2 separate regions of the Homo sapiens genome follow, and region 1 is linked to region 2. Evidence: fine-mapped expression QTL. Tissue or cell type: blood mononuclear cells. Region 2 holds a variant in brackets; the other region holds the start of a gene. All regions are shown on one strand. Distances are between the middles of the regions.

Region 1 (8,096 bases), 50 kb after region 2:
TACTTTAAACCATTTTGACACAAACTGCAAAGTATCAAAGCCCCCTCAAAAATAGGAAAATAAAACAAGTAAGAGTTACACAAAAATTATAAATTTAGACAAGGTCTGTAGTATAAAATGTAACAAAAAATAACCTGACAAGGTCCATTCCTAATAGTGCTTCTTCATCACAAACTTCTTCTCTTCCCCATACAGCTTCATTCCCAATGCAAACTCCATGCTCATTGGCTCCCATTTCTGCCCCCCACAACCACGCTGGGCGACTCAGGACAACAGCATATGTTTCAGGAACTTGATCAATTTCTATATATGTACACTGTAAAAAAAAAAAAAAAAAAGTCATAGCAAGAACCACAAAACCAGAAAAGTTATCAAAATCCAGAATTTAAAAAAATCAGTCAGAAGACAAAACTGTTATGAAAGAGGTAAAGGAAATATAAGTAAATTGAAATTTTCAATAATAAAGGCATTACCCTTAAAACATATTCAGAATAACCCTAAAATATTTATTCATTCAAATATTTGCTGAGCATTTCCTATTATAAAACATTCTGCCAAGAGATATGTTAGTTACAAAGATGAATCAGATAAAGATCTCACTTTTGAGAAACTAAAACTTCTACATTAAGATAAAATAAAGTATAAAGTATTAGGGTCATGAAGTGAAGACAAGGTGCTATTGGAGCTCAGGAGAAAGATGGTCTCTAGCTGTAATATCTTGAAACATTTTTGTAGATGTGTGAGTTGAAGCTTAAGGAAGTAGTTCTCAACCTCAATATCCAGTGTTTCTTGATTAGTGATATAATTACTCACATGGTAGCCTTCGAATACAAGAGTTTTGTCATAGGAATCTCACATCACATTTTGAAGTCAACCATTAGGTATGCCCACAGCAATGAAAAGAATGAGAACCACTGGTTTACAGGACAGGCTATATTTAAATATGAAGAAATAAAGTGGAAGTGGTATCACAGATGAATAAGTGGTCTTAGCAAAAGAAAAAAATATGGCATAGGATACAGAAAAAAGTCTAATATTTAATATGTTTTAATATTAGAATATCAATAAAATAAAATCTAAAAAGTATGAATTAGCAACAATAGCATAATTTGAAGCTCTCATTTTAAGTTCCACATTAAATGGGTTTTTAAAATAAGTTTTTAAAGGATCCTTTAATTAATGTGTATACTACCAAGTGACTGCATAAAATGTATATTGATAGTGTTAACATAGGGCCTAATAAACCTTTTTTGATGTGTCATAAAACTGTCATTCCTAAAGTCTGGGATGACTTTCCTATTCTACATCAAGTAGAACCTAAGCCAATTCAGAATCAGAATCCTTTTTGTCCATCAAATTCCAGCTAACTCCAAGCTGAATTAAATGTTCATTCTCTTCCGCTGCCACAGCATGCTACTGTTACTTAAATTTAGCATTTAAACCATCCTATTTTATAATGGGGTATAATGCATACACATCTTATTGCTATACTAGACTCTAAGCTCCTGGAACAGAGTCTTGACAGCTGACTTTAAATCTCTTGCCCTATCTAACATGCTTGCATATGGAAAGCATTCAAATATTTATTCAAACAATGGATAATTTTATTATTGTTATTTCAACGTCCTCCGAATCACTGAAATAAAAGATCACAGTTTATTTCTGACTCATTTATTTTTCAAATGTAAACTCCTCAATTTTAACTTCTACAGTTTCTTCCAAATTGCTATGTATAGAAATAACTTTATGATATTTTTAAAAGGCATATTGCTAACAAAACATTTATTTCACCTACCTTAAGACGTTCTCCCAGGTTATCATGAACTACAGCAGGAAAATAAACCACCTCTTGTACTTCATCATAGAGTCTATCTGAATTTTTTCCAAAAATAATCCTGTTATCGACTGTTGCTGGAGGTAATGCCACGAAAGTGTCACAGGAAAAAGGTTCCATTTTTTTTAACTAAAAATTATACAGATGTTTTAAAATAAAAAGAACACTTTTAAGTATATAAAAATAAAGAGTTTTACTCAATGACCAAAGGATATTATTGCCATATCTAATTAAGGATGTTCATTAAAGCTTTGATTTTTTTATTTTTATTTTTTGGAGACAAGGTCTAGCTCTTTCACCCAGGCTGGAGTGCAGTTGTATGATCAGGGCTTACTGCAGCCTGGAACTCCTGGGCTCAGGAGATCCTCCCCCTTCTGCCTCCCAAAGCCCTGGGATTACAGGCATGAGTGACCGTGCTTGGCTGTTCATTAAAGTTTTAAATTTTGTATACTACAGCCTAAAAATCAGTAAGAATATGACTTGGGACTCAATCTGGTACTACAACTCAGTAAGAAAATGGCAATGAGAACTACCTTCTTCTACTGTATAGTTCACATTTATTCTCTAAGACCTTTCTCTCCTAAAGTCTTCCCTGAATTTCGTTTCACCATTTCCATATTTGGGAATCCGTGTACCTAGCTCTATTGTTGTAAAGGCTAGATTCCATTACATTCGTGTATATATAAATCCCTTTACTGGACAATGAGATCCTTGAGGGCTGGGAGTATGTCTTACTAATCTTTATATTCTCTTTGCTGGAACTTGTCTTATGGAAAAAAATCTTACGTGCCCAGTACTTCCTCAAAGGAAGGAAGAAGGGGTCTTATTTGAGCTGGGAAATAATACACATTATAATTCTGATGAGACTGAAATTTTGAAACAGACTCATTGATTCAGACAAAAATATGTCAATATAATTCCAAATTGCTGATATTTCTAGGAGAAAGTTCACATATTTAATTTATAAATCGCAATTATATACTTTAATATCTAGATTACCTCTTCAGTTGTAACTTGGAAAATCTTAGATCTTCACTTATAATAGAACACCTAAAGGTCCTTATTTTGCTGCCAGAACAGACACATTGTTTTACAGAGTTTCCTTCTTTCCTTTAATAATGGCAAAACCTTAAAATGGCTTTACACAGGCAGATGCTAGCAACTTAAAAACAAAATTTAAATATAATAAATGTTTCCTTAAAAAGAAAAGAAAATGACTAAATAAAAACTTCAGACTGAAACTCTTAAGGGTTTTCCTCTTCTCCTCAGTGACGAGAAGTCTGATGTCTTGATGGCTTCTGTTATTTTCTTTCTGTATTTCAACTCTTATGTCCTGGATCTCCTTCTATTTGTGTTTTATAGTTAGTTCTATCACTATATAACTTTGGCAGACTATTTAATCTCTCTCTTACCTATGCCTTCTGCCTCATCAGAAAAATAAGACACTATTTGATGGGCTGTTATGAGAACTTAATAAGGCAACACGTAAAGTGTTTTGCACAGTGCATAGAACATAGTAGATACTCACATGAAAGCTGTTATTGTTATTATTTGGTAGGAGAGAAAATTTCTCATAAAGGCTTATTCGTTTTTTGTTTTTTTTTTTTGATGGAGTTTAACTCTTGTTGCCCGGGCTGGAGTGCAATGGAGCAGTCTTGGCTCACTGCAACCTCCGCCTCCCGCGTTCAAGTGATTCTCCTGCCTCAACCTCCCGAGTAGCTGGGATTACAGGCGCGTGCCACCACACCCGGCTAATTTTTCGTGTTTTTAGTAGAGACGGGGTTTCACCATGTTGGCCAGGCTGGTCTTGAACTCCTGACCTCAGGTGATCCACCCACCTTGGCCTCCCAAAGTGCTGGGATTACAGGCGTGAGCTACCGCGCCCGGCCAAGGTTTATTCTTAACATTACCCTGATAGAGAACTTGGTTGGTGGATCACCTGCTGCAGTAGCAGCCACGTCCACTCAAAAACCTGGAGTCCCAAGGGCCATCAAGCTGCAATAGTAACCTGAGCTGCCTAACTGGGGTCGTAGGGAAAGCTAAGGAAACTTGCCCCCTGGTTAGAATTGCACCTAGCCCACTGAGGAGGTGAAGCCTTGAGAGATTTTACCAACTCCTAACGCGTATTCGTCATTCAATAAGTATTTATTGAACGTCTTTCGGCGCCAGTACCGTACAGCTGGGTACAAAATAGACAGGGCCTCCGTTCTTGCAGAGCTGTCTGTCATTCTATTTCACGCGCTCTTAGTTCAGCCGGCGCTTTCAGAAACATCATATTGTTGGATTCTCGCAAGCATACTACGGTTAGGGCCGGAATTATTATCTTCATAACATAGATGAGAAAAACAGTGCAGAAAAGCTTTTGCAGCTCGAGTCAGAGTCCACAGAAAGTAATGGGCTCGAGCTTCAAGCACCTTTGGTCGAAGGGCCGCCGCGGTCCACCCCGCACCCCGGCCCTGGGCGCTCAAACCGCAGCCGGTGCAGCTGGGCTCCGGAGCCCCTCGGTCAAGCAGTGCCGCGCCACAGTTGGGTCTTCCGGGTTTCTGTCTCAACTATGCACGCCCCTCCCCCGTGCGCGCCCCTCACCTGGCCTCCCAGCTACCCGAAGTGACAGGTGGACGGAGGGAGGAGTGGCCAGTGGAGGCATCAGTTGCCGGAAGCTGTCACCTTTGATCTCGGAAGTTCCCCCTTGCTGCTGGAAACGCAGTTCCGGTTAGGCGGCTGAGTTTGTTTACGTTGCTAACAGATCTAGCCCCTGCTTTCCCTAGTTCCAGTTCCAAGATGGGGAAATCCTTCGCCAACTTCATGTGCAAGAAAGACTTTCATCCTGCCTCCAAATCCAATATCAAAAAAGTGAGTAAACAGACCCGGGGAGGGATTAGGCCCACAGGGACCGCCTTCCCAGAGGCTGCTGGAAGTGAAAGTGATGGTGTCTCTGAGATCCCTAGGACAGCCTCCGCTTCTCTAGGCCTAAAGCCCTGGTGGTCTCGCCTTTCTCTGCTGAGCAGCTCGCTGACGCAGCGGGTCCTCAGCGTTTATTCTGCAACAGCGAGGAGACCGGTGGCCTAGAGAATCTTTGTCGGCCAGAATGCAAATCCATAATATGCGAAGACTAATGTCAAAATTCCTCAGTACTTCCTTCAGCTGATTCTGGTTTTTTGTCTTTTCGGATCCCAGGGATCACGGCTTCTGAACTCTACTTTTCTGTACAAAGAAGCCTCCCCGTTTACTTAAGATAGATCTTTAAAAAAATTACCTAATAATCTAGTGTCTTTTTGATGACTAAACTCGTTGAAGTTTAGTGTTTTACATAATTACAGGTCTACCAGTTGTAATACTTTGGTGAATATCATAGTAATGAAAAGCAAAAGAGTGAAGTAGAAAGAATCAGCTTTGGAGTCAAACCTGGATTCTAGTTATTCGAGCAGTCACTTTTAGCCTTAAGACCTTGCACAAAATATTTGTAATATCTGACCCTCAGTCTTCTAATCTGTAAATTAAGGATGATTGACTTAATTGTGAGGATTAAGTGAAATAGTGAAGATAAAGGATTTGAAACAACGTAGGCATCTATCACTGTGTCCACTACAGAGAGGAGGTGCTCAATAAAATGTTGATTGCCCCTACATAGAAACTTGTGAAAATAACTAAGCTTTTATTTGTTTTTAGAACGAGTTGAGGTGATGAGATACTGCTATATACTCTCACTTCTAGACCAGTGATTCTCAACTTTTTTTTCACTGTTACCTTCCTAAGGAGTCTTATTAAACATTTTTTCTTAATAACTCCCCCATGAAATTTTAATAACACAGATACACCTTGAAAGCTCTTTGGTAATCATCCAGCCCCATCTCCTCATTTTATAAATGAGGAAACAAATTTGCCAAGAGTTACACAGCTAGTTAAATGTTGTACCAGAACTAGGATCTGGAACACCTGATTAACCCAGTGATTTTTTTTCCACTGCACCAGTTTGTGTTTGTGTGGTTGCAACTGTGGGAGGGAGAGGTTTCTTGTATTTGGTTGGCTCAATAACTTTTGACACCAAACACAGACATTTCCTTTCTCTGCATACTTAGGGGGTCAGCTGTTACTATTTTTACAAGAATGAAGAGATTAGATGGAATTCAGGTGCTTGCTTATTTGCTGTTTATATTTAGAGACAAATATACCTGAGAAATCATAATTTTTTACTGGAACTTTTGACATTTCGCTTTATAAATTTCAATGTATCAGCTTTCTTACAAGAAAAAAGAAATCCACAGAGAATAACTTTTGCAAGTCCGCTATGAGAAATTCAGTAAAGCAGTTATAGGCTTAGAACCTACATTCTTCTCATCTGTGTAAAGTGTTATGTAAAATGTACCAAATATTGTTGGCCTCTTTGATCTGTTTTATACTTTTCCCAGGATAGAGGAGAAGAATGAAATGTTTTTGATTAGCAGACCTTTCTAGATAGTTAACACTTTATGGGGAGAGGGGGTGACCTCTAGCATTCTTTATTAACTAAGGATAAAGGAACTATATTAAATGAAGATAAATAGAAAAATTTATTAGGGTAGGAGGAAACTTTTGGAGGTGATGGATATGTTTATAGTGTAGATTGTGATGATGGTTTCACAGGGATATACTTGTCACCAAACTCAGGTTGTATACATTAAATATGTACAGCTTTTTATATGTCATACTCCAGTAAAGTTTTTTTTTTTTTTTAATAGAAGTGGAAGAAACAAAGGAGTTTGATCAAAGAGTGCAAAAGAGTTCCACCATGAAAATTTTAAGGGCCAGGTATGGTGGCTCATACCTATAATTCCAGCACTTTGAGAGGCCAGGAATTCAAGACCAGCATAGGCAACAAAGTGAGACCCCATCTATATTTAAAAAGAAAGAAAGAAAATTCTAATTGTAAAATTAGGCATGTTGGGTTTATTAAAGTCCAGTAGGTTCTTTTTTTCCTTGTTTGTTTTCAGTTTCCCAAGCTTATAAAAAGTCCAGTAGGTTTTAAGGTCTCATTTGTTCACCAAAAATAAGAGTGAATGCTGTATATCTGCTGGTCACTCTGTTGTGTATTGTTATGCGCTGCCTCAATCATTTATGTCACAGGATACACTGTTTTGTTCAGCTGTTCTTTTTTTTTCTTGATTTTGTTAATGAAGGAAGCAGTTAATTTACATTGTGGTCCAAGCTCTTTAGTCTTCTTGTGGACTGGCAAACAGTTCATAAACTGGCTATTGACAATTGCATCACTGTAAACTCCCTTTTTTGTGAAACTCTCTGTTCCCTTAGCTGTAATAACTACTCTCTTCTAGTTTTCCAGCTCTCTTATTAGACTGTTCTTTTCCCATCAACTTCACTGGATCTTTATTCTTAGCCTGCTCCTAAAATATAAGTGTTCCCCAGAGTTTCATCCTTGGCCCACTTCTTGCTTACTTAGTATGCTTGCCCCAAGCAATCACATCCAACTAGCCTGTTTTAACTAGCCTGTTTACTCATGACTCAAATCTGCAGTCCCAGTTTTCTCTTCTTAACTTTGATGTGGCTCAAGACAGCTATCTACTAGACATTTGCATCTTGATGTCCTATAGGCACCTCAAACTCAACATATCTGATATAAAAGTTTTTTACCCCAAATCAGCCCTTTTTATACTTGCTATCTCATATGGGTAGAAATATAGATAGTAAAACAGTCCCTCATCCTGTTGCCCAAACCAGAAGCTCAGGATTCATCCCTTTTCCCATCACTCCTTTATCTAGTCAATCACTGAATGCTATTGGTCTTACCTTCCAAATATCTCTTGAATCCATCTTTCCTTTCTGTCACTGCTGCTTGTGTCTTAATTCAGACCCTCATCATCTTTCACCTATATTGTTGCATTTCCTAAGTGGTTCTACTGCCTCCAATCTTGAGTCCTCTCAAATCCATTCACTACACAGCCATCAGAATAGTCATTTTTCATTTTAACAGCTCTGCTGAGATAAATTTACATATCATACAAACACCCATGTAAAATGTACAATTTAGTGGTTTTTAAAATGTATTCATGGAGTTAAGTAATCATTACCACAAACAATTTTAGAACTTTGTCATCACCCCAAAAAGAAACCCCCGCTGGGCATGGTGGCTCACACCTGTAATCTCTGCACTTTGGGTGGCTGAGGTGGGTGGATCACCCGAGGTCAGGAATTCAAGACAGCCTGGCCAACATGGTGAAACCCTGTCTCTACTAAAAGTACAAAAATTAGCTGGGTGTGGTGGCGGGCG
Region 2 (8,108 bases):
CTCCTGTCTCAGCCTCCCGAGTAGCTGGGACTACAGGCACCTGCCACCATGCCCGGCTAATTTTTATATTTTTAGTAGAGACGGGATTTCACCATATTGGTCAGGCTGGTGTCAAACTCCTGACCTCAGGTGATCTGCCCACCTCAGCCTCCCAAAGTGCTAGGATTACAGGCGTGAGCCACCGCATCCGGACTTGTTTAGTTTTTTAGAGACAGGGTTTCGCCATGTTGCCCAGGCTGGTCTCGAACTCCTGAGCTCAAGCGATCTGCCCGCCTTGTCCTCCCAAAGTTCTGGGACTACAGGCATGAGCCACTGTGCCTGGCCTATTTCATTCTTTTTATGGCTACATAGTATTCCATGGTATATATGTAGCACATTTTCTTTATCCAGTCCACCATCGATGGGCACCTAGTTTGATTCCATGCTTTGCTGTTGTGAGTAGTGCTGTGATGAACATGCAAGTGCATGAGTCTTTTGGTAGAACCATTTTTTTTCTTTTGGATATGTACCCAGTAATGGGATTGCTGGGTCATATGGTAGTCCTGTTCTAAGTTCTTTGAGAAATCTCCAGGCTGCTTTCCACAGTGACTGAACTAATTTACATTCCCACCAATGGTATAAAGCATTCCCTTTTCTCTACAGCCTCACCAGCATCTGTTGTTTATTGATTTTTTAATAATAGCCCTTCTGACTGATGCAAGACGGTATCTCATTGTGGTTTTGATTTCTCTGATGATTAGTGATGTGCAGCATTTTTTCATGTTTGTTGGCCGCTTGTATGTCTTCTTTGAGAAGTGTCTGTTCATGTCTTTTGTGCATTTTTTAATGGAGTTATTTGTGTTTTGTTTGTTCAATTGTTTAAGTTCCTTATAGATTCTGGATATTAGGCCTTGTTAGATGCATAGTGTGCGAATATTTTCTCCCATTCTGTAGGTTGTCTGTCTACTCTGTTCATAGTTTCTTCTGCTATGCAGAAGCTCTTTAGTTTAATTAGGTCCCACTTGTCAATTTTTGGTTTTGTTTTTGTTTTTACCTTAAAACTTCCCAGTAGGCCGGGCGCGGTGGCTCACGCCTGTAATCCCAGCACTTTGGGAGGCCGAGGCGGGTGGATCATGAGGTCAGGAGATCGAGACCATCCTGGCTAACAAGGTGAAACCCCGTCTCTACTAAAAATACAAAAAATTAGCCGGGCGCAGTGGCGGGTGCCTGTAGTCCCAGCTACTCGGGAGGCTGAGGCAGGAGAATGGCGTGAACCCGGGAAGCGGAGCTTGCAGTGAGCCGAGATTGCGCCACTGCAGTCCGCAGTCCGGCCTGGGCGACAGAGCGAGACTCCGTCTCAAAAAAAAAAAAAAAAAACAAAAAACAAAAAACAAAAAACTTCCCAGTATAGTGTTTTTGTTACAATTGCTTTTGAGGACTGAGTCATAAATTCTTCCCAAAGGTCGATGTCCAGAATGGTGTTTCCTAGGTTTTCTTCTAGGATTCTTATAGTTTGAGGCATTACTTTTTTTTGAGACACAGTCTTGCTCTGTTGCCCATGCTGGAGTGCCATGGCACGATGTTGGCTCACTGTAACCTCTGCTCCCAGGTTCAAGCAATTCCCTTGCCTCAGCCTCCCAAATAGCTGGGATTACAGGCGGCCGCCACCATGCCTGGCTAATTTTTGTATTTTTAGTAGAGACAGGGTTTCACCATGTTGGCCAGGCTGGTCTTGAACTCCTGACCTCAAGTGATCCGCCCATCTCAGCCTCCCAAATTGCTAGGATTACAGGCGTGAGCCACCGTGCCTGGCTGAGACATTACATTTAAATCTTAGTCCATCTTGAGTTAATTTTTGTATATGGTGAAAGGCAGGGGTTAAGGCAAATTGTAAACTCTTTAATGAGAGGTTAAGAGATAATAATAATTTGTTTCACAGTTAGCCAAAATAGGGTATTCATGACTAATATGTAGATTTATCAGTGATAAAACTTGAGTTATTAATTCGGCCTTTAAAATTATATGTATATAATTTTAATATATACAATATAAAAATAAAAATATATATTATATACTTTTTCAACCTTTGTCCCCCTTCCTCCCTCCTCACCTCTAGTAGTCCCCAGTTCCTATTGTTGCCATCTTTATGTCCATGAGTATCTGATATTTAGCTCCCACTTATAAGTAAGCACATGCAGTACTTGGTTTTCTGTTCCTGTGTTAATTCACTTAGGATATATATAATATCTAATATATATTATATATTTAATATATAATTTATATATGTAAATTATAAATATAATTAAATATAAAATTTTTATTTATATATGCTTATATATTAATTTGTAATTTATATAATATGCACAAATTACATATATAATTATATATAAATTTATATGATTATAATATATACTGATATATAATATACATTTATAACATAATATATAATTGTTATATAATTATATATGTAATGTGTATATATTATTTATATAACTAATATATAAAATAAAAATTATATATAATTTATACTTAATTATATTAATTATATAAAAATTATATATAATTTTTTATTATTTTTTTTAATTTTTTTTGAGACAGAGTCTTACTCTGTGGTGCAGTCTTGGCTCACCACAACCTCTGCCTCCTGGGTTCAAGCGATTCTCCTGCCTCAGCCTTCCAAGTAGCTGGAATTACGGGTGCCCGCCACCACACCCAGTTAATTTGTGTATTTTTAGTAGGGATGAGGTTTCACCGTGTTGGCCAGGCTGGTCTTGAACTCCTAATCTCAAGTAATCTGCCTGCCTCGGCATCCCAAAGTGCTGGGATTACAGGCATGAGCCACCGCACCCAGGCAAATTATGTATAATTTTTAAAGACCAAATTATATAACTTATGTTAGATAATTATATATATAAAACATTGTTGAATAGTGTAAAAGGGAACTATTGTATTCTACTTATGTTTTTTGAGATAAAAACATTTCAGCTAGAATTCTTCTAAAGCAACATGAAGGAGCTTTCTTCCAATTTCATCTAAAATAATATACTGATTCTTAGCTGAATGTGCTTTTCTGTTGTTTCTCTTAGGAAGTCATTACAAATTTAAAATGCATTTAGATAAAAAGCTCTGATTACAAATTGTTGTGCTTACTCTTTTATAGACAATCATTGTGTGAGTCGCTGTAACTCCCAGAGCTGCATATTAGCCCAGGAAGAAGAACAGTATCTACAGAGTGGAGACCAGCAACTGACCCGACATGTGTTGCTGTGTTTACTTCTCATCATTGGCCTGTTCGCTGTAATGGTTTTTTCTGGTTTTGTTTTGGGGCCATTTCTTTAAATTTTTGGCAAAGGTTTTATTCAGGCATCCGGGAAAAACTTAGTTGCTGCTTTCCAGAAGTGTGGTAGCTAGGTCACCTGAATTTGGATCTTGAGCTAAATAATTGCAGGTGTGAGGGGAAGAGATGAATCATTCACATTACTCTGAGGCCTGAGTGCTCCAATAGCTTATTCTGCTTAGAATCATTTATTCATTCTATGCTCTGAACCTAGAATTTGGTAAAAGCAGCTATTTCTTTTTATTTTTTATTTTTTTTTTTTTTGAGACAGAGTCTAACTCTGTTGCCCAGGCTGGAGTGAAGTGGCATGATCTCAGCTCACTGCAACCTCTGCCTCCCGGGTTCAAGCGATTCTCCTGCTTCAGTCTCCTGAGTAGTTGGGATTACAGGCGCATGCCACCATGCCTGGCTAATTTTTGTATTTGTAGTAGAGACGGGGTTTCATCATGTTGGTCAGGCTGGTCTTGAACCCCTGACCTCAGGTGATCCACCCTCCTTAGCCTCCCAAAGTGCTGGAATTACAGGCGTGAGCCACTGCGCCAGGCCCAAAAGCAGCTATTTCAATAATGTACACAGGGCCACTTATTCCTAACATACCTGACTGACCAAAGTGGATAAATGCCTACATTAATGTCTCAGAACATGAAACCTCAGTGTCCACCAGAAAAAAAAAAAGAAAACCAAAAAACCTCTCAGAACATATTCCTCAGATAAACTTTAAAAAATAATTTTCAATTATCAAAATAACATAACTACTTCATATAATAGACCCTTACAAAATAGAGAAAATTAAAATACAGTATTTTATTTTTAGACTACATGCATTTCTTTGATTACTAAATGTCCTATTTGTGAATTATCAGTTCTTATTATATAATTCTTTGAGATGGTTCAAGTGTAACTCGTCCAGAGGTAGGAGATGGACCAGATAACCTATGAAGGAACGCTTTGCACACTGGGATGCTCGTGAGATAGTGTGATATCAGCCAATACCACTTTAAGTGCCATTTAAGAACAAAAATCAAAAAATAAGAAATGCTGCCAAGAATTGCTTAGTGATGTAATTGTTTTCATTGTGTAGAACTAAATTTAAAATCAGGCCTGTCTTAGGCTAGTTGGCAATCTTGATACATTATGTAAGCTTCTGTATTATGGCTCATGTCTTCTTGCTTCAAATCTGATCAGAATAGATAACTGTTTGAATGACATCTGTCAGGAGGAGAGGTTGAAACTTTCTTATTGAAAAGATAAAGCCTCTATATTCTCTCA[G/C]TGTTTTTCCGTCTAGTCTTTTTCCCTGTAATTATTAAGTAGGTAAGTTATTGTACTATGCTGTGGATGGAGAGGAATTATCAGCTTGCTTGATTTTAAAATACTCTTTTCTCCTTTCTTTACAGAATCTTTCCAGTTGTTTATGGTGGCTATTCAACCAAGAGCCTGGAAGACTTTATGTTGAGTTACAGTTTTTCTGTGCCGTGTTTAACTTTGGTCAGGTATTTATTTATGGAGAACTTTGAGGGGTTTTTGTCTTCCTGGATAGGTTGATTGGTAGGGGGTCGGGGGAAGCGGGGAGTGGATTAGGATGTTGTTTTCTTTCACATAAAAAGGATTTAGTTTGTTTGCCAGCTGCTGGTATGCATGGCAGCTGACAGCTGCTGCTTGTCTTCTAGTAGAGACGAATTATTATATTGGTTAAAGTCATCAGAATGTACGCTGAGTGCTTCCACCAGAAAAATGCCAGGTAGTAACTTTGGTGTGATCTTAATAAGTCACATTGGGACCGGGCTCATTGGCTCACACCTGTAACCCCAGCACTTTGGGAGGCCAAGGTGGGCAGGTCACTTGAGGCCAGGAGTTCAAAACCAGCCTAGCCAACATGGTGAAACCCCATCTCTACAAAAAAATACAAAAAAATTAGCCAGACGTGGTAGTCCATGCCGATAATCCAAGCTACTGCAGAGGCTGAGGCACAAGAATCACTTGAACCCAGGAAGTGGAGGTTGCAGCGAGCTGAGACTGTGCTACTGCACTCCAGCCTGGGTGACAGAGTGAGATGAGACTGTCTCAAAAAAAAAAAAAAAAAAAAAGGTCACTTTGGGAAAATAACTTAATTTCCCTGAACTTTTAATTTAGCTCCTTAAATTTTTTTTTTTTTTTTGAGACGGAGTTTCGCTCTTGTTGCCCAGGCTGGAGTGCAATGGCGTGATCTCAGCTCACTGCAACCTCTGCCTCTCAGGTTCAAGCAATTCTCCTGTCTCAGCCTCCTGAGTAGCTGGGATTACAGGCATGCACCACTACGCCCGGCTAATTTTGTATTTTTAGTAGAGACGGGGTTTCTCCAGTTGCTCAGGCTAGTCTCCAACTCCCAACCTCAGGAGATCCACCCACCTCAGCCTCCCAAAGTGCTGGGATTACAGGCATGAGCCACCACACCCGGCCATCTCCTTAAATTAGTGGACATCATTTCATTTACATTTTGATGTTTCTTGAACAATAGATACTTAAATCTTAAAAAGAAAAATCATGTGGTATATAAATAAATTTTGGCTAGGGATAGCAGTTACCATTCCTTGATAGTCTACTATGTGCCAACCATCGTTAAGCATTTTACATTCATTATCTCATTTAAACATCATGACAACACCTGCAAAGTAGTATTATCACCCCCAGTTTATGAATTAGGAAACTAAAATTCCATAAACAAGTAATATGATAGGTGCTATTGTCTATGTTTATGTCACTATTAAAATGGATACTTAAGGATAAATTACATCTTACATATTGGGAAAATATTTTTTATGTGCAAATTCCAAATTTTGACCTTTAACTCCTTACTTTTTTTTTTTAATTGAGATGGAGTCTCATTCTGTCATCCAGGCTGGAGTGCATTGGCATTAGCTCACTGCAACCTCCACCTCCTGGGTTCAGGTGGTTCTCCTACCTCAGCCTCCTGAGTAGCTAGGACTACAGGCACCTGCTACCATGCCCAGCTAATTTTTGTATTTTCAGTAGAGATGAGGTTTCACCATGTTGGCCAGGCTGGTCTTGAACTCCTGACCTCAAGTGATCCACCTGCCTTGGCCTCCCAAAGTGCTGGTATTAACGGGCATGGGCCACCGCACCCAGCCCTTACTTTTGCATTACAGAATATTAGTCCACAGACTGAGTATCAGGTCAAAAAACAAAAAACCCCACACATTTGAAATCACTGAGTTTGTCTATTAAATCTAAAATAATTTGCCATATGAATGAGTTAACATTTGTCAATAGATGTTGCTGTTTTTCCTAATATTAATTTCTTACAATATTTACAGTTTGGCCATTATGATGGGAGCAAAAATGGCTATGCCCACAGAGACAAATGACCTTAATCAGTTTATTACAGACAGACATGAGCATCCTACTTGATATCTCACTTTGTGATACTGTTTAAGATCTGATTTTGTATCTAAGAACTATAAAATACTGAGTTGAAAAATCATAGTCTGACTTAGCATTTTGCATTCAGAAAGCCCATTCTAAGCTGAGCTATCCAGAACTGGGACTGGGATGAGCTTCATTCCATAGGGCTGTGTCATCAACAGCAGCTAATGCCAGGAATGTTGCATTTAAAATGCTGCCCCACAACTTAAGGCCGAAGTGGTTCAATGGAGCAAGACAGACAGAAACCCCATTCCCATCCCATTTTCCTCTTGGGGAGGTGGTATGGTAAGCTCATTCCCTTCTGGCTGTTTATAGTATGGGGGATGAAGAAATTTGGGTCCTTCTGCATTCTCCATTCTACTTCTATCAAGTTGCACTCAGATCCTTATCCCAGTGTGACACAGATGGCAGCTCCCAACTTCCTATCTCTCAAAAAGAGTCTTTAAATTGTCCTAACCTGTGGCTGATACCTGGTGCTAGGCATTTGCCTTGACACTCACAAATCCTTGAACTCTTCTCCTAACCACTAGCCAGTTTCACTTTACATAAATTCTGTTCAATTACTGCATTATTATTAGATACTGCAACACTTGTTAATTATATAATTTGTGAGGTTTCATGGAAAAATAATAAATACTTACGCACAGTGGGAAATATTTTCTTTTTATAAAGGGGAAACAAAGACATATATGCCCTTAAACGTTTTCATTTTACTATCATGTAAATGCGGCTGCTCAGCCCTGGTTTGTATCACCCATCACAATGAGTGGGATAGAATGATTGGGAAAAGGCAGCAAAGCATCATACCTGCCTTTGAAGGGCCTACTTTGTGTGTTCCACTTAAAATGTTGCTCTTGTCACTATAGGTTTGTCTCCTCAAACACTAAATTTGGTGACTTCCTTAACTTCTCTGTTTTAAAATGTTATTGTTGAATTCTGAAAAAAATAACTTTGTTTTCTTCCCTAGGGATTTATTTCCTTTGGAATCTTTGGATTAGATAAACATTTAATCATCCTGCCTTTCAAAAGAAGGTAAATTAAGTTTTGAAATAAATCTGTATCTGTAAATGTGATGACAAAGCCATTATATTAAGATACTGATATGGGGCCATGCATGGTGGCTACTTGTAATCCCAGTACTTTGGGAGGCCAGGGTGGGCAGATTGCTTGAACTCAGGAGTTCAAGACCAGCCTGGGCAACATAGTGAAACCTAGTCTCTACAAAAAAAAAAATACAAAAATTAGCCAGGTGTGGTGGCATGCTTTTGTAGTCCCAGCTACTCAGGAGGTTGAGGCAGGAGGATGGCTTGAACCTGGGAGGCAGAGGTTGCAGTGAGCCAAGATTGTGCCACTGCACTCCAGCCTGGGCGAC

The links. PIP is the estimated chance that this variant, and not a neighbour inherited with it, causes the effect.
Region 1: SCRN3 starts here. The variant in region 2 is fine-mapped to the expression of SCRN3 in blood mononuclear cells (TOPMed, PIP above 0.99).

Annotation. Positions count from the first base shown.
Region 1 is chr2:174,392,142-174,400,237 of GRCh38, reverse strand. SCRN3 (secernin 3) reads right to left here and starts at 4,508. Exons shown (of 8, transcript NM_024583.5): 1 at 4,421-4,508; 2 at 1,796-1,963; 3 at 135-316. The coding sequence starts at 1,954. It overlaps CIRSR (corepressor of RBPJ and splicing regulator), which reads left to right and starts at 4,526. Exons shown (of 10, transcript NM_004882.4): 1 at 4,526-4,687. The coding sequence starts at 4,616. RefSeq lists enhancers at 3,580-4,080, 4,578-4,627 and a silencer at 8,014-8,096.
Region 2 is chr2:174,441,779-174,449,886 of GRCh38, reverse strand. GPR155 (G protein-coupled receptor 155) reads left to right here. Exons shown (of 16, transcript NM_152529.7): 12 at 3,140-3,276; 13 at 4,711-4,806; 14 at 7,704-7,768. Among named protein-coding and RNA genes, the nearest start is that of GPR155, 41 kb to the left of the region's middle. The variant G/C (reference allele first, on the strand shown) is at 4,586.